Regions from separate parts of the Homo sapiens genome. Here region 2 is linked to region 1. The links come from fine-mapping of genetic effects on gene expression. Tissue or cell type: substantia nigra. Region 1 holds a variant in brackets; the other region holds the start of a gene. All regions are shown on one strand. Distances are from middle to middle.

Region 1 (8,100 bases):
GTAAATAGAGGGAGTTTGTAATCCCTCTCCCACTTCCCCGCCCTGGTTTCATCCCTCTCCCACCTCCCCGCCCTGGTTTCATCCCTCTCCCACCTCCCCGTCCTGGTTTCATCCCCCTCCCTCTCCCGCCCTGGTTGGGTGGAAGGGATGAGAAGCGGCAGACAGAAGAGAGAGAAGGAACTGGGGGCAGTGGCTCACACCTGTAATCCCAGCACTTTGGGAGGCGGAGGCGGGAGGATCACTTGCACCCAGGAGTTCGATACCAGCTTGGAAAACAGTGAAACCCCATCTCCATCAAAAAAAAGAACAAAACAAAAATTATCCAGGTGCGTGCCTATAATCGCAGCTACTTGAGAAGCTGAGGCAGAAGAATTGCTTGAACTCGGGAGGCAGCCGTTGCAGTGAGCCAAGGTCATGCCATTAGCCTCCAGACTGGGCAACAGAGTGAGACTCCAACTCAACAACCACCACCACAACAACAAAAAAGGAGACAGATGGAGAGAGAATCAGATGAGGGAAGAGTGAGGAGAAAGGGGAGAGAGACAAAGGAAGTGAGGAGGAGAAAGAAGGAAGAGGGAGGGGACTGTGAAGGGAAAGTAAATTTCGGGGTCCCCAGATTGTGTCCGGAATTGGTTCCTTCCGGTGGGTTCTTGGTCTTGCTGACTTCAAGAATGAAACCGCAGACCGTTGCAGTGAGTGTTACAGTTCTTAAAGATGGTGTGTCCCGAGTTCGTTCCTTCAGATGTTCAGATGTGTCCGGAGTTTCTTCCTTCCAGTGGGTTCCTGGTCTGGCTGACTTCAGGAGTGAAGCTGTAGACCTTCACAGTGAGTGTTAACAGCTCATAAAAGTAGTGTGGGCTCAAAGAGTGAGCAGCAGGAAGATTTATTATGAAGAACAAAAGAACAAAACTTCCACAATGTGGAAGGGGACATGAGCAGGTTGGCACTGCTGGTTCAGATGGCCAGCTTTTATTACCTTATTTGGCCCCAACCACTTCCTGCTGATTGGTCCATTTTACAGATCGCTGATTGGTCCATTTTACAGAGGGCTGATTGGTCCGTTTTTACAGAGCGCGGATAGGTATGTTTTTACAGAGGGCTGATTGGTGCGTTTACAAACCTTTAGCTAGACACAGAGCGCTGATTGGTGTGTTTTTACAGAGTCCTGATTGGTGCATTTACAAACCTTTAGCTAGACACAGAATGCTGATTGGTGCGTTTACAATCCTTTAGCTAAATAGAAAAGTTCTCCAAGTCCCCACCTGACCCAGAAGCCCAGCGGGCTTCACCTCTCAAAATCATTAAGCTAGAGCGAAAAGTCAAGCTGGGAACTGCTCAGGGCCAACCTGCCTCTCATTCTATTCAGAGTCCCTCCTGTGCTCACTTAGATACATTCATATCTGATTGGCTCCTTTGGAGAGGCTCATCAGAAACTCAAAAGAAGGCAACCTTTTGTCTCTTTATCTACCTATGACCTGGTTTTTGTTTTGAGATGGGATCTCATTGTGTCACCCGGGCTGGAGTGCAATGGCACAAATACAGCTCACTGCAGCCTCCACCTCCTAGGCTCAAGCGATCTTCCCATCTCAGCCTCCCGAGTAGCTGGAACTACAGGTGCACATCACCATGCTTGGCTAATACAAATTAAAAAAAAAAAATTAAGTTCCTCACCCATAGTACATAGCATTATGGCTACAACTGTGGTAGCCCCAGTAGCTGCATTGCAAGAGCTCACTAGCTGTGCATGGCTAGTGAATGATGTAAAACACACCCAAGGCTTAGGAAATGTCCAACGGTCCATTAAACAGTGACACTCTCTAGCGAGACTTCCAGGAGCTGCTTAGCCAATTAGTAGCTCCACGACGACCTTAGGCAGATTATTGTACTTCTCCTTACCTCTCTCAGGTTCCTCATCTGTGAAATGAGCTTAATAATAGTACTATCAAAATGTTGTTGTGAGGGCCTGGTGCAGTAGATAATGCCTGTAATCCCAGCACTTTGGGAGGCCAAGGCAGGTAGATCACTTGAGGTCAGGAGTTCGAGACCAGCCTGGCCAATATGGTGAAACCCCATCGCTACTAAAAATGCAAAAACGAGCTGGGCACGGTGCCAGGTGCCTGTAATCTCAGCACGTTGGGAGGTCGAGGCGGGCAGATCACTTGAGATCAGGAGTTTGAGACCAGCCTGGCCAACATGGTGAAACCCTGTCTCTACTTAAAACACAAAAACTAGCTGGGCATGGTAGTGCACTCCTGTAGTCCCAGCTACTCAGGGGGCTGAGGTAGGAGAATCGCTTGAACTCAGGAGTTAGTGGTTGCAGTGAACCAAGATCGCACCACTGTACTCCAGCCTGGGTGACAGAGTGAGACCCCGTTTGAAAAAAAAAAAAGTTGTTGTGAGAATTCTATGATTTAATATATTAAGAGTTTTTGGAAAGATGCCTGACATGGTAAATCCTTACTATCATTATACTAAGTTGTTAATATTTATATCATGTTATTAATATTATTATGTATTGTAAGTATATATGTGTGTGTGTATATATATATATAAATATATATATATATTTTTTTTTGAGACAGAGTCTCACTTTGTCGCCAAAGCTGGAGTGCAGTGGCACAATCTCGGCTCACTGCAACCTCCACCTACTGGGTTCAAGTAATTCTCTGCCTCAGCCTCCTGGGTAGCTGGGATTACAGGCACCTGCCACCATGTCCGGCTAATTTTTGTATTTTTAGTACAGATGGGGTTTCACCATCTTGGCCAGACGGGTCTTGAACTCCTAACCTCGTGATCCACCCACCTTGGCCTCCCAAGGTGCTGTGATTACAGGCGTAAGCCACCTCGCCCGACTTATTTATTTATTTATTTATTTCTGAGACAGCATCTCACTCTATTGCCCAGGCTGGATTACAGTGGTGCTATCTCTGCTCACTGCAACCTCTGCTTCCTGAGTTCAACTGATTCTCCTGCCTCAGCCTCCCGAGTAGTTGGCGCCTGCCACAACGCCCGGCTAATTTTTGTATTTTTAGTAGAGACAGGGGTTTCAACATGTTGTCCAGGCTGGCCTCGAACTCCTGACCTCAGGTGATCTGCTCACCTCGGCCTCCCAAGTGCTGGGATTACAGGCGTGAGCCACTGCACCTGGCTAAATGTCCCATTAGCTTTAATCCTCATTCAGTACAATTATGTGCTGTATAACAACATTTCAGTCAATGACAGACTGCATATATGACAGTGGTCCCAAGAGATTGTAATACTGTATTTTTACTGTCCTTTCTCTATGTTTAAATACATGTAGATACACAAACGCTTATCATTGGCCTGGTGCAGTGGCTCATATCCATAATCCCAGGACTTTGGGAGGCCAAGGTGAGAGGATCACTTGAGCCCAGGACTTCAAGACTAGCCTGGGCAACATAGTGAGACCCATCTCTAGTTGTAAATATATTTTAAGTTAAAATATAAATTTTAAGGCTGGGCGCAGTGGCTCACACCTATAATCCTAGCAATTTGGGAGGCTGAGGCGGGTGGATCACCTGAGATCAGGAGTTCGAGACCAGCCTGGCCAACGTGGTGAAACGCCATCTCTACTAAAAGTACAAAATTAGCCGGGTGAGGTGCCAGGTGCCTGTAATCCCAGCTACTGGGGAGACTGAGGCAGGAGAATCACTTGAACCTGGGGGCAGCAGTTGCAGTGAGCTGAGATTGTGCCACTTCACTGCAGCCTGGGCGAAAGAGCAAAACTCCATCTGGAAAAAAAAAATATATATATTTATATATATATATATATAT[AT/T]ATATATATATATATATATATATATATATATGTAAAATCTAGAGGTCATACCCTACAGCCTGGGTGTGTAGTTGCTATACCATGTAGGTTTGTATAAGTACACTCTATGGTATTTGCACAATGACAAAATTGCCTAGTGATGCATTTCTCAGGATATATCCCCGTTGCTGAGTGAGGCATGACTTGTACCTAGAAGGTACACATTTTTTCAGTCCATGCTATATCTGGGCAAACTGAAGTTCAGAGAGGTTTTGTCAGTCCCCAAAGGTCAATAGCATTGAAGAGGTGAAACTGGGAGGTGATCTGGGCTTGTGAGATTCCAATGCCCACGCCTGTCCACTGGATCATGAGCTCTCTTGAGGCAGAAGCCTGTGCAAGGGTCCTGGGGTAGACATCACAGGGTGTGTCTGGCATGTGATGCATTGGTCAGTTTTGCTGGAATGCAGGGTATGTGGAAGGGAGGGGTGTGGTGGAGACAGATGAGAAATAAAGTCAGAAATAAAGTAGAAGCTAGTCAGACATTGAGCAGCAACCTGTGGATTTGCAGCTCCATTTAAGGAACTACAGAGTGCTCTAAAAAGCATCTAATCTGAGACAGCCTGCCCCTTAGCTCCTGCTGGTGAAAACAGCAGTTCACATCTAGGGAGCAAGAACGATTGTGCTGGCCAGGTGCACTGGCTTACTTCTGTAATCCTAGCCCTTTGGGAGGCCGAGGTGGGCGGATCACTTGAGGTCAGGAGTTGGAGACCAGCCCGGGAAACATGGCAAAACCCTGTCTCTACTAAAAAAACAAAAATTAGCCGGGCGTGGTGGTGGGTGTCTGTAATCCCAGCTACTTGGGAGGCTGAGGCAGGAGAAACACTTGAACCCGGGAGGCAGAGGTGGCAGAGAGCCGAGATCGTACCACTGCACTCCAGCCTGGGGGGTAAAGCGAGACTCCGTAACAAACAAACAAACAAACAAACAAACAAACAAACAGATTGTGCCGAGACCCATGCCTGTGGTCCATCTCACAGAGTCCTTACAAGAACCTTTTTCTTTTTTTTTTGAGACAGAGTCTAGCTCTTTCACCCAAGCTGGAGTGCAGTGGCACGATCTCAGCTCCCTGCAACCTCCACCTCCCGGGTTCAAGGAATTCTCCTGCCTCAGCTTCCCAAGTAGCTGGGATTACAGGCACGCACCACCACGCCTGGCTATTTTTTGCATTTTTTTAGTAGAGATGGGGTTTTGCCATGTTGGCCAGGCTGGTCTCTGACTCCTGACCTCAGATGATCCGATCCACCTGCTTTGGCCTCTCAAAGTGTTGGGATTTCAGGCGTGAGCCACCACGCCAGGCCAATAACTCTTTTGTTTTTATTTTTGAGACAGAGTCTCTCTCTTAGCCAGGCTGGAGTGTAGTGGCACGATCTTGGCTCACTGCAACCTCCTCCTCCTGGGTTCCAGCGATTCTCGTGCCTTAACCTCCCAAGGAGCTGAGACTATGGGCACGCACCACCATGCCCAGCTAATTTTTTTTTTTTTTGAGATGGAATCTCACTCTGTCACCCAGGCTGGAGGGCAGTGGCGTGATCTCGGCTCACTGCAAACTCCACCTCCCGGGTTCAAGCAATTCTCCTGCCTCAGCCTCCCGAGTAGCTGGGATTACAGGCGCCCGCCAACACGTCCAACTAATTTTTGTATTTTTAGTAGAGATGGGATTTCACCGTGTTGGCCAGGCTGGTCCCAAACACCTGATCTTGTGATCTGCCTGCCTTGGCCTCCCAAAGTGCTGGGATTACAGGCGTGAGCCACTGTGCCCTGCCACCTGGCTAATTTTTTTTTTTTTTTTGAGATGGAGTTTCGCTCTTGTTGCCCAGCCTGGAGTGCAATGGCGCGATCTCGGCTCACTGCAACCTCCACCTCCCGGGTTCAAGTGATTCTCCTGTCTCAGTCTCCCAAGTAGCTGGGATTACAGGCGAGTGCCACCACGCCCGGCTAATTTTTGTATTTATAGTAGAATCAGGGTTTCATCATTTTGGTCAGGCTGGTCTCGAATTCATGACCTCAGGTGACCTGCCCACCTTGGCCTCCCAAAGTGCTGGGATTATAAGCATGAGCCACTGTGCCCGGCACTAATTTTTATACTTTTAGTAGAAATTGGGGTCTCACCATGTTGCCCAGGTGGGTCTCAAACTCCTGGCCTCAAGCAATCCTCCCATCTCAGCCTCCCAAAGTGCTGGGATTATAGGTGTGAGCCACCTTGCCTGACCCAGTTGTGTTTGTTTCTTTTTTCTTTTTGAGACAGAGTCTCACTCTGTCCTCCAGGCTGGAGTGCAGTGGTGTGATCTCAGCTCATACAACCTCTGCATCCTGGGTTCAAACGACTCTCTTGCCTCAGCCTCCCTAGTAGCTGGGATTACAAGCACATACCACCATGCCTGGCTAATTTTTCTTTTTTTTTTGAGACGAAGTCTTGTTCTGTCACCAGGCTGGAGTGCAAGTGGTGTGATCTCGGCTCACTGCAACCTCCGCCTCCTGGGTTCAAGCCATTCTCCTGCCTCAGCCTCCCACGTAGCTGGGACTACAGGCGCGCCACCACACCCAGCTAATTTTTGTATTTTTAGGAGAGACAGGGTTTCACCATGTTGGCCAGGATTGTCTCCATCTCTTGAGCTCGTGACCTCGTGATCTACCTGCCTCGGCCCCAAAAAGTGCTGGGATTACAGGCACGAGCCACCAAGCCTGGCCTAATTTTTTGTATTTTTAGTAGAGATAGGGTTTCACCGTGTTGGCCAGGCTGGTCTCAAACTCCTCACCTCAAGTTATCTGCCCGCCTTGGCCTCTGAAAGTCTTGGGATTACAGGTGTTGAGCCATTGTGCCTGGCCACAGACCTGGCTTTTATACTTTTCTTTTTCTTTTTTTTTGAGACGGAGTTTCACTCTGTTGCCCAGGCTGGAGTGCAGTGGCATGATCTCGGCTCACTGCAACCTCTGCCTCCTGGGTTCAAGTGATTCTCCTGCCCCAGCCTCCCGAGTAGCTGGGATTACAGGTGCACACCACCACACCTGGCTAATTTTTTTTTTGGTAGAGATAGGGTTTCACCATGTTGGCCAGGCTGGTCTCGAACTCCTGACCTTAAGTGATCAGCCCACCTCGGCCTCCCAAAGTGCTGGATTACAGGCATGAGCCATCGCATCTGGACTGACTTTTATATTTTTTATAAGAAGTCCGTGATCTTTTCCTCCTTACAAAAATTCAATAACCATTCATTCAATCGTTCATTCAATAAATATTTATTGATGATCTATAATATGGTAAGGAGAGACTAAGAGGTTAATATAAGAGGAAATACAACTATGGTTAGTAATAATCACATTAAGCATTGTTATTATTGGTCGTATTTAGATAAGAATTGATTACAACAGCTCGTTCCACCGTTAATTTGATATTTACACTATGACATCACAAATGGAGAGCTTTACATGAATAATCCCATTTAATCCTCTTAACAGATCTGTGAGATCAGATCGTCTTTTTTTCTTTTTAATAATTTTTGTTGTTTGCTACATGACATTGTGGGATACATGCAGATGGTGCAATGGTTACTACAATGAAGCAGTCATGTATCACTTTCTATTTGTATATGTTTTGTAGTTGAGGAAACTGAGGCTTGGAGAGATTAAGCAACTTGCTCAAGGAAATATAGCTGTGGGTGATAGAGGTGGGGCTTGGGGGTTTGATCCAGGGGTGGGGTGGTCCACACCCTTCATCCACCAGTAGCTTGAGGGTGGTTTTTCAACGGAAGGAGACAGGAGTGAGGAGAACATCTGGGAGTGGCTAAGGTGGAGAGAAAAATCTGAGATGAGAGAGAGAGGGCCAGGCGCAGTGGCTCTCACCTGTAACCCTAGCACTTTTGGAGGCAGAGGTGGGAAGAGTACTTGAGTCCAGGAGTCCAGGAGCTCAAGACCAGCCTGGGCAACATGGGAAAACCCCATTTCTACTAAAAATACAAAACATTAGCTAGGCATGGTTGTACGTGCCTATAGTCTTAGCTACTTGGGAGGCTGAGCTGGGAGGATCCCTTGAGCCCAGAAGTTCAAGAGCAGCCTGGGCAACATGGCAAAACAAGGAAGAAAGAAAGAGAGAAAGAGAGAGAAAAAGAGGGAGGGAGGGAGGCAGGGAGGAAGGAAGGAAGGAAGGAGAAAGAGAAAAAGAAAGAGAAGGAAGGACGGAAAAGAAGGAAGGAAGCAGAAAGGGAGAAAGAAAGAGAAGGAAGGAAGATGAAAGAAAGAGAAAGAAAGAAGGAAGGGAGGGAGGAAGGAAG
Region 2 (8,093 bases), 730 kb after region 1:
CTTCTGCATGGGTGATGTCAATGCCAAGGCCAGTCAGGTGCGTGGGCGCCCCCACTGTGGCTCTCAGCCAGGAGTCACTTCCACTTTGGGAGTCAACCTGTGACCTCCCTTCCCTGAGCCTACCCCAGCCTGTTCCCTCTTCCTCCCCACTCCCCAGACGGGGCAGACAGCCCTCATGCTGGCCATCAGCCATGGCCGACAGGACATGGTGGCAACCCTACTGGCGTGTGGGGCTGATGTGAATGCGCAGGATGCGGATGGGGCCACAGCGCTGATGTGTGCCAGTGAGTATGGGCGCCTGGACACCGTGCGGCTGCTGCTCACCCAGCCAGGCTGTGACCCTGCCATCCTGGACAATGTAAGACCCCACAATGGGGCTGGCATCTTGGGGGGTGCCCATGGCTTGGCTCAGGGATCTGACTGTCCCTAACGTTCCACAGGAGGGCACCAGTGCCCTGGCCATCGCCCTGGAGGCTGAGCAGGATGAGGTGGCCGCTCTGCTACATGCCCACCTGAGCTCGGGCCAGCCCGACACCCAGGTGAGCACAGCTCTGGAAGAAACAAACTTTCCCAGCTGCAAATTCAGTTTGCAGAGGATAGTAAATATGCCCTGAGCCTCCCTTTCTGCTCCCCAAAGGTGGCACCAGGGGTGCAGAACCAGTGTCTGGATTCTCCTATGTGGCTGCTTTTCTTTTTTGGGAGACAGGGTCTCACTCTGTAACCCGGGTTGGGGTGTAGTGGTGTGATCAGAGCTCACTGCAGCCACAAACTCCTGAGCTCAAGGGATCCTTCTGCCTCAGCATCCTCAAGTGCTGGGATTACAGGTGTGAAACCAGAGCGCCTGGCAGGGGCTGGGATTTGATGTGAAAGCAGCAAAACCCCAGTGAGGTTGACACTACCCCAGGTCATGAGACTGAGTCCTCAAGGGGGGAAGTAACCTAAGGTCACAGAGACCTAGCTAAGACCTTTCATGCATGCCCCTGGGCTCCTGTTACCTACTGCCAGGGAGGCTCTTATCAAAGGAAAAAGGAGCCCTTTGGCATCAGGCAGGGTGGGGAAGGGGGTCCAGAGCTTCAGAACTGGAGACTGGGTGAGTTTGCAGAACACATTAACCCCCAACACCACTATACTCTGATGGCCAAGTGCCAGGATGTTTTAGCACTTTCATAATCCAAGTTATCTAATCAGCCCACTCATCCTGTACAGGTTGACCCCAATTTACCATGGCTCCACTTACCATTTTTTATTTATTTTTGAGATGGAGTCTTCCTCTGTCACCGAGGCTAGAGTGCAGTGGGGCGACTGCAGCTCACTGCAACCTCCACCTCTGGGGTTCAAGCGATTCTTCTGCCTCAGCCTCTCAAGTAGTTGGGACTACAGGCACGTGCTACCATGCCCAGCTAATTTTTTTTTTTCATTTGAAGACAAGAGTCTCGTTCTGTCACCCAGGCTGGAGTGCAGCGGCACAATCTCAGTTCACTGCAACCTCCACCTCCCAGGTTCAAGAAATTCTCCTGCCTCAGCCTCCCAAGTAGCTGGGATTACAACAGCTGTGAGCCATCGCGCCTGGCACAACTTACAATTTTTTGACTTCATGATAGCATAAAAGCAATGTGTGCTTAGTAAAAACCACACTTCAGCAGAGTATTCAATAAATTACATAAGACATTCAATACTTTATTAAAACAGGCTTCGTGTTAGACGAGTTTCCCCAACTACAGGCTAAGGCGTTCTGAACAAGCTTAAGATGGACCATGCTAAGCTGTGATGTTTGGGAGATTAGGTGTATTAAACACATTTCAACTTGCAATACTTTCAACCTATGATGTACTCACCGGAATGTAACCCATTGTAAACTGAGGAACACCTGTACTCACCCCACTGGAAGGGATGTGGGAGGAAGGTCAAGCGCCTCTTCCAGGTCAGAAGGGGCAGAGGTTGGATACAAACCAGGCAGCCTGGGTCCATGGTAAAAGAACCTCCACTAAGTGAGGCTGGGGCTGAATCCCACGTTTCCTGCCTCAAGGAGATTGCAGCAGGCCCCCCTCTTTTCCCCTCTCTCCAGAGCGAGTCACCCCCTGGCTCCCAGACAGCCACACCTGGTGAAGGAGAATGCGGTGACAATGGAGAGAACCCCCAGGTTCAGTAAGCTGCCTCGTCTGGCTCACTACACCTAGCTGTGGGGAGATCTCCTCGTCAGTCACCTCAGCCTTTGGCGCACAGAAGGGTCCAGGGTCCCCTGCTCAGAGGCTAACACTGGCCGAAGAGAAAGGCAATTTCAGTTGGGGTGACTGTGGCAGGAAGGGGCTCACTCTGGCCCCACCAAGGTGAGGTGGGGACCAAGTGATAGAGCCCTGATCCACCCACTCTCTGAAACTTCTTTGCTAATAAAACATTCCTACTACGCTTGTGTTTTGTTTGGGGTAGAGGGTGCAATCGACAAACACGACCCCCCGCCTCAAAAAGGAAAAGCTTCGTTTGGCAAGACCGCACGGCCAGGATTTCCAGAGTGCGGAGGATCGGTGACCGCCTGGGAGCCACTCAAGAAACCTGGAGAAACCCTAGTCGTATAACCCAGACAAGAACCTGAGTTAACTTGAAACACAAACGCTTTATTTAAAGGAGCATCTCAGTTACGTGTGGCGGACAAAAAAAAGGAGCAGACTGTGACAGACCATTCCCATCGGCCAAGTGGTCGAACCCGACATCCAAGACCCTGTAAACAGACCCAAACATGAGATGTTGACAGGCCCCGCAGCAATTGGCAAACTCCCGCCTCCCTCTTGTCAGTCTCTGTATGTAGACTCTGCCTCCCAAACCCTCTCACCCTGGGCTTAACGAAGCCTCCCTACCACCAACCAAAGGTCTATCAAAGGGGTGTCCTCTTTGCACCCACCAGCGAGCAGCCAAGCTCAGCGCAACCTCCGGGCTTCTCGCTCTGACTCCAAAAGGGTGAGCACGTCGCCCTCGCGCACGGGGCCTTTTACATTGCGGATGATGGATCGGCTCGTGTCGTCCATGAATTCCACGCGCACCTACGGGTCCCCACCGGAGTGGAGGAAGAAGTAAGGGCGGGCCGCGGAAAGGCACCGCGGAGTGGGAAGCAGATATGAATTCAGAGAACGTGTCGGGGCCAGAATACAGATCGTTAAAGGGAACCATCAGAACCCCGTGATGAAATGAGAATCGGCTCCCGGATTCCGGCTGGCAGGGGTTAGGGCAGGGTAGAGGTCACATCAGGGTTTAGGTCGCCGGCAGTCGGCCAAATGCCCCCACCCGATTACCTGCGTGCACTGTCCCTGAGAACCGGTCCTGCCCAGGACCTTGGTGACCTGGAGGAAAGAAGCTGGGTTCAGACCCGGCCCGTTTGGCTCCTCTAATCCCTCCCCCTGCCCCCAAATTCGGGCCCCCACCTCACCCTGGCCAGCTTGATAGGCTGCACACGGCTGGTGTCCATGATGGCGGCGCGGCGGCGGTCTGGCGGAGAGGAGTCACGTGCTTCGGGGAGAGCCTTTATAGGACGTTCTAGCACCGCCCACTCCCGTCTCGCGATACCACGCCGCGTCTTTCCCAGCAGCCCCAGCGGTGGAGACGTCACCGGCTGCGCCCTTCAGTATCGCGGACGGAAGATGGCGTCCGCCACCCGTCTCATCCAGCGGCTGCGGAACTGGGCGTCCGGGGTGCGCGGGGCGGACAGGGCTGCACCATGGGGGGCTTCGGGCTCCGTGTGTCCGGGACCCGCTCCTGCTCCTCACCTCCCTCCTAAGCCGGGACCCTTCGCTCTCCCCGAATCTCCCTGGGAACCCCCAGCTAGTCACCCCTTCAGCCCGGGACCCTCTCCTGGCCTGGGAACCACTCAGGCCTGGGATTTCCCCAGTCCCCGACCTTCTTAGCCTTGGATCTGTGGGCCCGGACTCTGGCTTTGCTCTTCACCTGCAGGACCCACATCCGTTTCCCCGAGTGTTCATCCCCTGCCTTCCCTTAAAATGCGCATCCCCGGACCATCCCTGGTCCCTTGCCCTCTCCTTTCCTCTCTCCTGGGGTGCCTTGCAGGCCGACCTCTCCTCTCCTCTTCCCACAGCATGACCTGCAGGGGAAGCTGCAGCTACGCTACCAGGAGATCTCCAAGCGGTGAGCAGGCCCCGCTCGCTGCCCAGCCTCTGGCTCTGTCCTTTCTCCACCAAAAACGAAATCTGTGTTCCTTTAGACCCCTGAAACGGAGGGCTGACATCCTGCCACCAGTCCCCTGCCAGGCTGTGGAGGCAGAGGTTTGCCTTTAACCTTGCTGAACTCCGGAGGACAGCCCTCCTGAAACAGCGAGGCCGGGCGTGCATTCTGACTGGCAATCAGGCTAGATTTGCAGTGCTCAGCGTGGCCATGTTAGTCAGTGTTATCCCCAAGCTACAGATGAAAAAAGAGGTCCAGAGAGGCGAAATCATTTGCCTCAAGTCACTCAGAAGCTAAAAAGTGGCAGCGGGGACTTGAACCCAGAAGTGTCCTGATTTCAGACTCATTTATATTAAAATATTAGTTGATATTTACAAGCCCCCGTCATGTATGACCTCAGCCTTGGGTTTAACTTTGTGAACCAGGAAAGTTCTTATCCACATTCTTTCATGGACGCCACATTCTAGGGAGAAGCATAGTAGGGAAACAAACACAGCAGGTAGTATTGTTCTGGAATGCTTTGAAGACAAAACAAAATAAGTGGAAGCTGGAGGGTGGCTACGTAAAGTCAGATGATTGGGAAAGATCTTTCTTTGGAAATTGACAGTTGAGTCCCCTGAATGATGGGAAGGACCCATTCAAAGAATAATTATTGAAAAAACATTCTGACCGGGCGCGGTGGCTCACGCTTGTGATCCCAGCACTTGGGGAGGCTGAGGCAGGCGGATCACGAGGTCAGGAGTTTGAGACCAGCCTGGCCAACACAGTGAAACACAGTAAAACCCCCTCTCTACTAGAAATACAAAAATTAGCCGGGCGTGGTGGCGCGCGCGGGTAGTCCCAGCTACTCGGGAGGTTGAGGCAGGAGAATCGCTTGAACACAGGAGGTGGATATTGCAGTGAGCTGAGATCGCACCACTGCACTCCAGCCTGGGTGACAGAACAACACTCTGTCTCAAAAAAATAAAAAAGAAAAAACATTCTGAGCAGAGGGAACAGGAAGGGCTAAGAGTGTCAGGCTGGACAGAGCCTGAGTGGAAGGAGGCCAGTATGGATGGAACCCATTGAGGGAAAGGGATAATGGTATAATCTATGAAGTCAAAGGGTAGGCAGAGGTAAGGCAGTCATTGAGGATTATAATGAAAGGAAGAAAAATAGCATTAAAATAATGAAATTTATGTAAATGCCTATATGTTGTGACTAATTCCAAATATTAGAAGTATCAAACTTTGTTTTCAACTTTTTTTTTTTTTTTTTTTTGAGACGGAGTTTTGCTCTTATTGCCCAGGCTGGAGTGCAATGGCACAATCTCAGCTCACTGCAATCTCCATCTCCCGGGTTCAAGCGATTCTCCTGCCTCAGCCTCCCAAGTAGCTGGGATTACAGGCATGTGCCACCACGCCTGACTAATTTTTTGTATTTTTAGTAGAAACGGGGTTTCACCATGTTGGCCAGTCTGGTCTCGAACTCCTGACTTCATAATCCGCCTGCCTCGGCCTCCCAAAGTGCTGGGATTACAGGTGTGAGCCACTGCGCCCGGCTTGTTTTCAACTTTAACGTTAAGTTCTGGGGTACATTTGCAGTTTTGTTACAAAGGTAAACGTGCCATGGTAGTTTGCTGCAAAGATCAAAGATCAACCTATCACTTAGGTATTAAGCCCAGCATCCATTAGCTATTCTTCCTGATGCTCTCTCCCCCCCAACCCCCGACCCCCCTAGTTGGCTTTCTATCAGGGTAGTTGTGGGCCAGTTGAGGAAATGGCTTTGTGAAAGTTTTGACTTTTTTAGGATGACGGCACCCTCTAGTGATTCATCTGGATGTTTTATTGGTCTTTTTTTTTTTTTCTTTTTTGAGACAGAGTCTCACTCTGTCGCCAAGCTGGAGTGCAGTGGCGGATCTGAGATCACTGCAATCTCCGCCTCCCGGGTTCAAGTGATTCTCCTGCCTCAGCCTCCCGAGTAGCTGGGGCTACAGGCGTGCACCACCACACCCAGCTAATTTTTGTATTTTTAGTAGTGACGGGGTTTCACCATGTTTGCCAGGATGGTCTGATCTCTTGACCTCGTGATCTGCCCGCCTCGGCCTCCCAAAGTGCTGGGATTACAGGTGTGAGCCACCGCGCCTGGCCTTTTTTTTTTTTTTTTTTTTTTTTTTTTGTAAGACTGGGTTTCTGTGACCCAGGCTGGAGTGCAGTGGCACAATCATAGCTCACTGCAGCCTCGAACTTCCAGGCCTAAGTGATCCTCCTGGTCCAGCGTACCAAGTAGCTGGGATTACAGGCACATGTTACCGTGCCTGGCTAATTTTTAAATTTTTGTATAGAGACAAGGTCTTACCATGTTGCCCAAGCTGGTCTTAAACTCCTGGCCTCTGACTGGGCATGGTGGCTCATGCCTGTAATCCCAGCACTTTGGGAGGCCGAGGCAGGCGGATCACAAGGTCAGAAGTTTGAGACCAGCCTGGCCAACATAGTGAAAACCCATCTCTACTAAAAATACAAAAATTAGCCAGCATGGTGGCACACGCCTGTATTCCCAGCTACCTGGGAGGCTGATGCAGGAAAATCGCTTGAACCTGGGAGGCGGAGGTTGCAGTGAGCCGAGATCGCACCACAGCACTCTAGCCTGGGCGACAGAGCGAGACTCCATCTCAAAAAAAAACAAACAAAAAAAACACTCCTGGCCTCAAGCAATCCTTCCACCTTGGCCTCCCAAGGTATGAGCCACCACATCCAGCCTCCTTAAGCAAAGTCTTTCACATAATATATTGCTTTTAATATTAAACATTTTTTACTTTATGTTTCTTATTTTTAAAAAATACAGTGACTAACACTTGTTTTAAGAAAAAGGCCAGGAGTGGTGGCTCACGCCTGTAATCCCAGCACTTTGGGAGGCCAAGGTGAGAGGATAACTTAAGGCCAGGAATTCGACATCAACCTGGGCAACATAGCAAGACCCCCGACTCCACAAAAACAATAGAAAAATTGTTTTTAGCCAGATGTGGTAGTGTGCGCCTGTAGTTCCAGCTACTTGAGAGGCTGAGGCGGGAGCATTGCTTGAGCCCAGGAGGTTGAGGCTGCAGTGAGCTATGATCACACCTCAAGCGATCATATGATTGCATATATCATCCAGGCTGCAGTGCATATGATCACTGCCTCAGAAAAAAATTAAATTCCGGGAAACAGTTCCCAGACAAAAAAGTGACTTAGAAACATGGCTAAGTGGAAACAGATCAATTTACGGTTTTTGCTGTCTTCTCTCCTCCCTCTCTCTGGAAAGCCCGTCTTTTGTTTTGAGCTTTTTTTGTTTTTTGAGATGGAGTCTCGCTCTGTCGCCCAGGCTGGAGTGTAGTGGCGTGATCTCAGCTCACTGCAACCTCTGCCTCCCACCACCATGCTTGGCTAATTTTTGTATTTTAGTAGAGATGGGGTTTGCAGTGTTGGCCAGGCTGGTTTCGAACACCTGACCTCAAGTGATCCACCCACCTCGGCCTCCCAAAGTGCTGGGATTACAGGCATGAGCCACCCTGCCCATCCTTGTTTTGAGCATTTCTTTTAAGGCCTCAGGCTTCCAGGTAAATCCAGCCCAGGGTTTAGTTCAAGCCAAGACCGAGCTCTGTTCACCCCTCTCTGGGCTCCAGAGAGGAGTTGCCTGGCCACATGGTGGCAGGAAATGCAGAGATCTTGACAGGCTCCAAGGCTAAGGTGTTCTTGAATAATGGGCCTTGATCCTAGCAGGGTTCTCCAGAGACTTCCTGAGATAACAGGAAACGCAGGGCGTCCAGAGCCTGGCTTTAGGGGAAAAAGCCACTCAGAGTGGACAAAGTCAAGTGAGGCTGGCTGCCAAGCTCAGCCGTGGGGTGGGGGGCATGGGGACATGTCCCGGGCCTTGGGAGCCTCAGAAAGGGTCCTCTGTACCCTCCACAT

Evidence for each region. PIP is the estimated chance that this variant, and not a neighbour inherited with it, causes the effect.
Region 2: it holds the start of RPS28, and the variant in region 1 is fine-mapped to the expression of RPS28 in substantia nigra (Braineac2, PIP 0.95).

The regions. Positions count from the first base shown.
Region 1 is chr19:9,046,790-9,054,889 of GRCh38, reverse strand. All of the region lies in intron 1 of MUC16 (mucin 16, cell surface associated), which reads left to right. Among named protein-coding and RNA genes, the nearest start is that of MUC16, 15 kb to the left of the region's middle. RefSeq lists enhancers at 1-325, 4,428-4,927. The variant AT/T (reference allele first, on the strand shown) is at 3,796.
Region 2 is chr19:8,316,895-8,324,987 of GRCh38, reverse strand. RPS28 (ribosomal protein S28) reads right to left here and starts at 3,492. Exons shown (of 4, transcript NM_001031.5): 1 at 3,419-3,492; 2 at 3,285-3,332; 3 at 2,897-3,035; 4 at 1,648-2,716. The coding sequence starts at 3,457. The coding sequence ends at 2,913. NDUFA7 (NADH:ubiquinone oxidoreductase subunit A7) reads left to right here and starts at 3,613. Exons shown (of 4, transcript NM_005001.5): 1 at 3,613-3,680; 2 at 4,082-4,131. The coding sequence starts at 3,630. KANK3 (KN motif and ankyrin repeat domains 3) reads left to right here. Exons shown (of 11, transcript NM_198471.3): 8 at 1-37; 9 at 158-358; 10 at 441-539; 11 at 2,066-2,404. The coding sequence ends at 2,149. RefSeq lists enhancers at 1,624-2,589, 2,590-3,557, 3,464-3,703, 3,558-4,525, 4,526-5,493.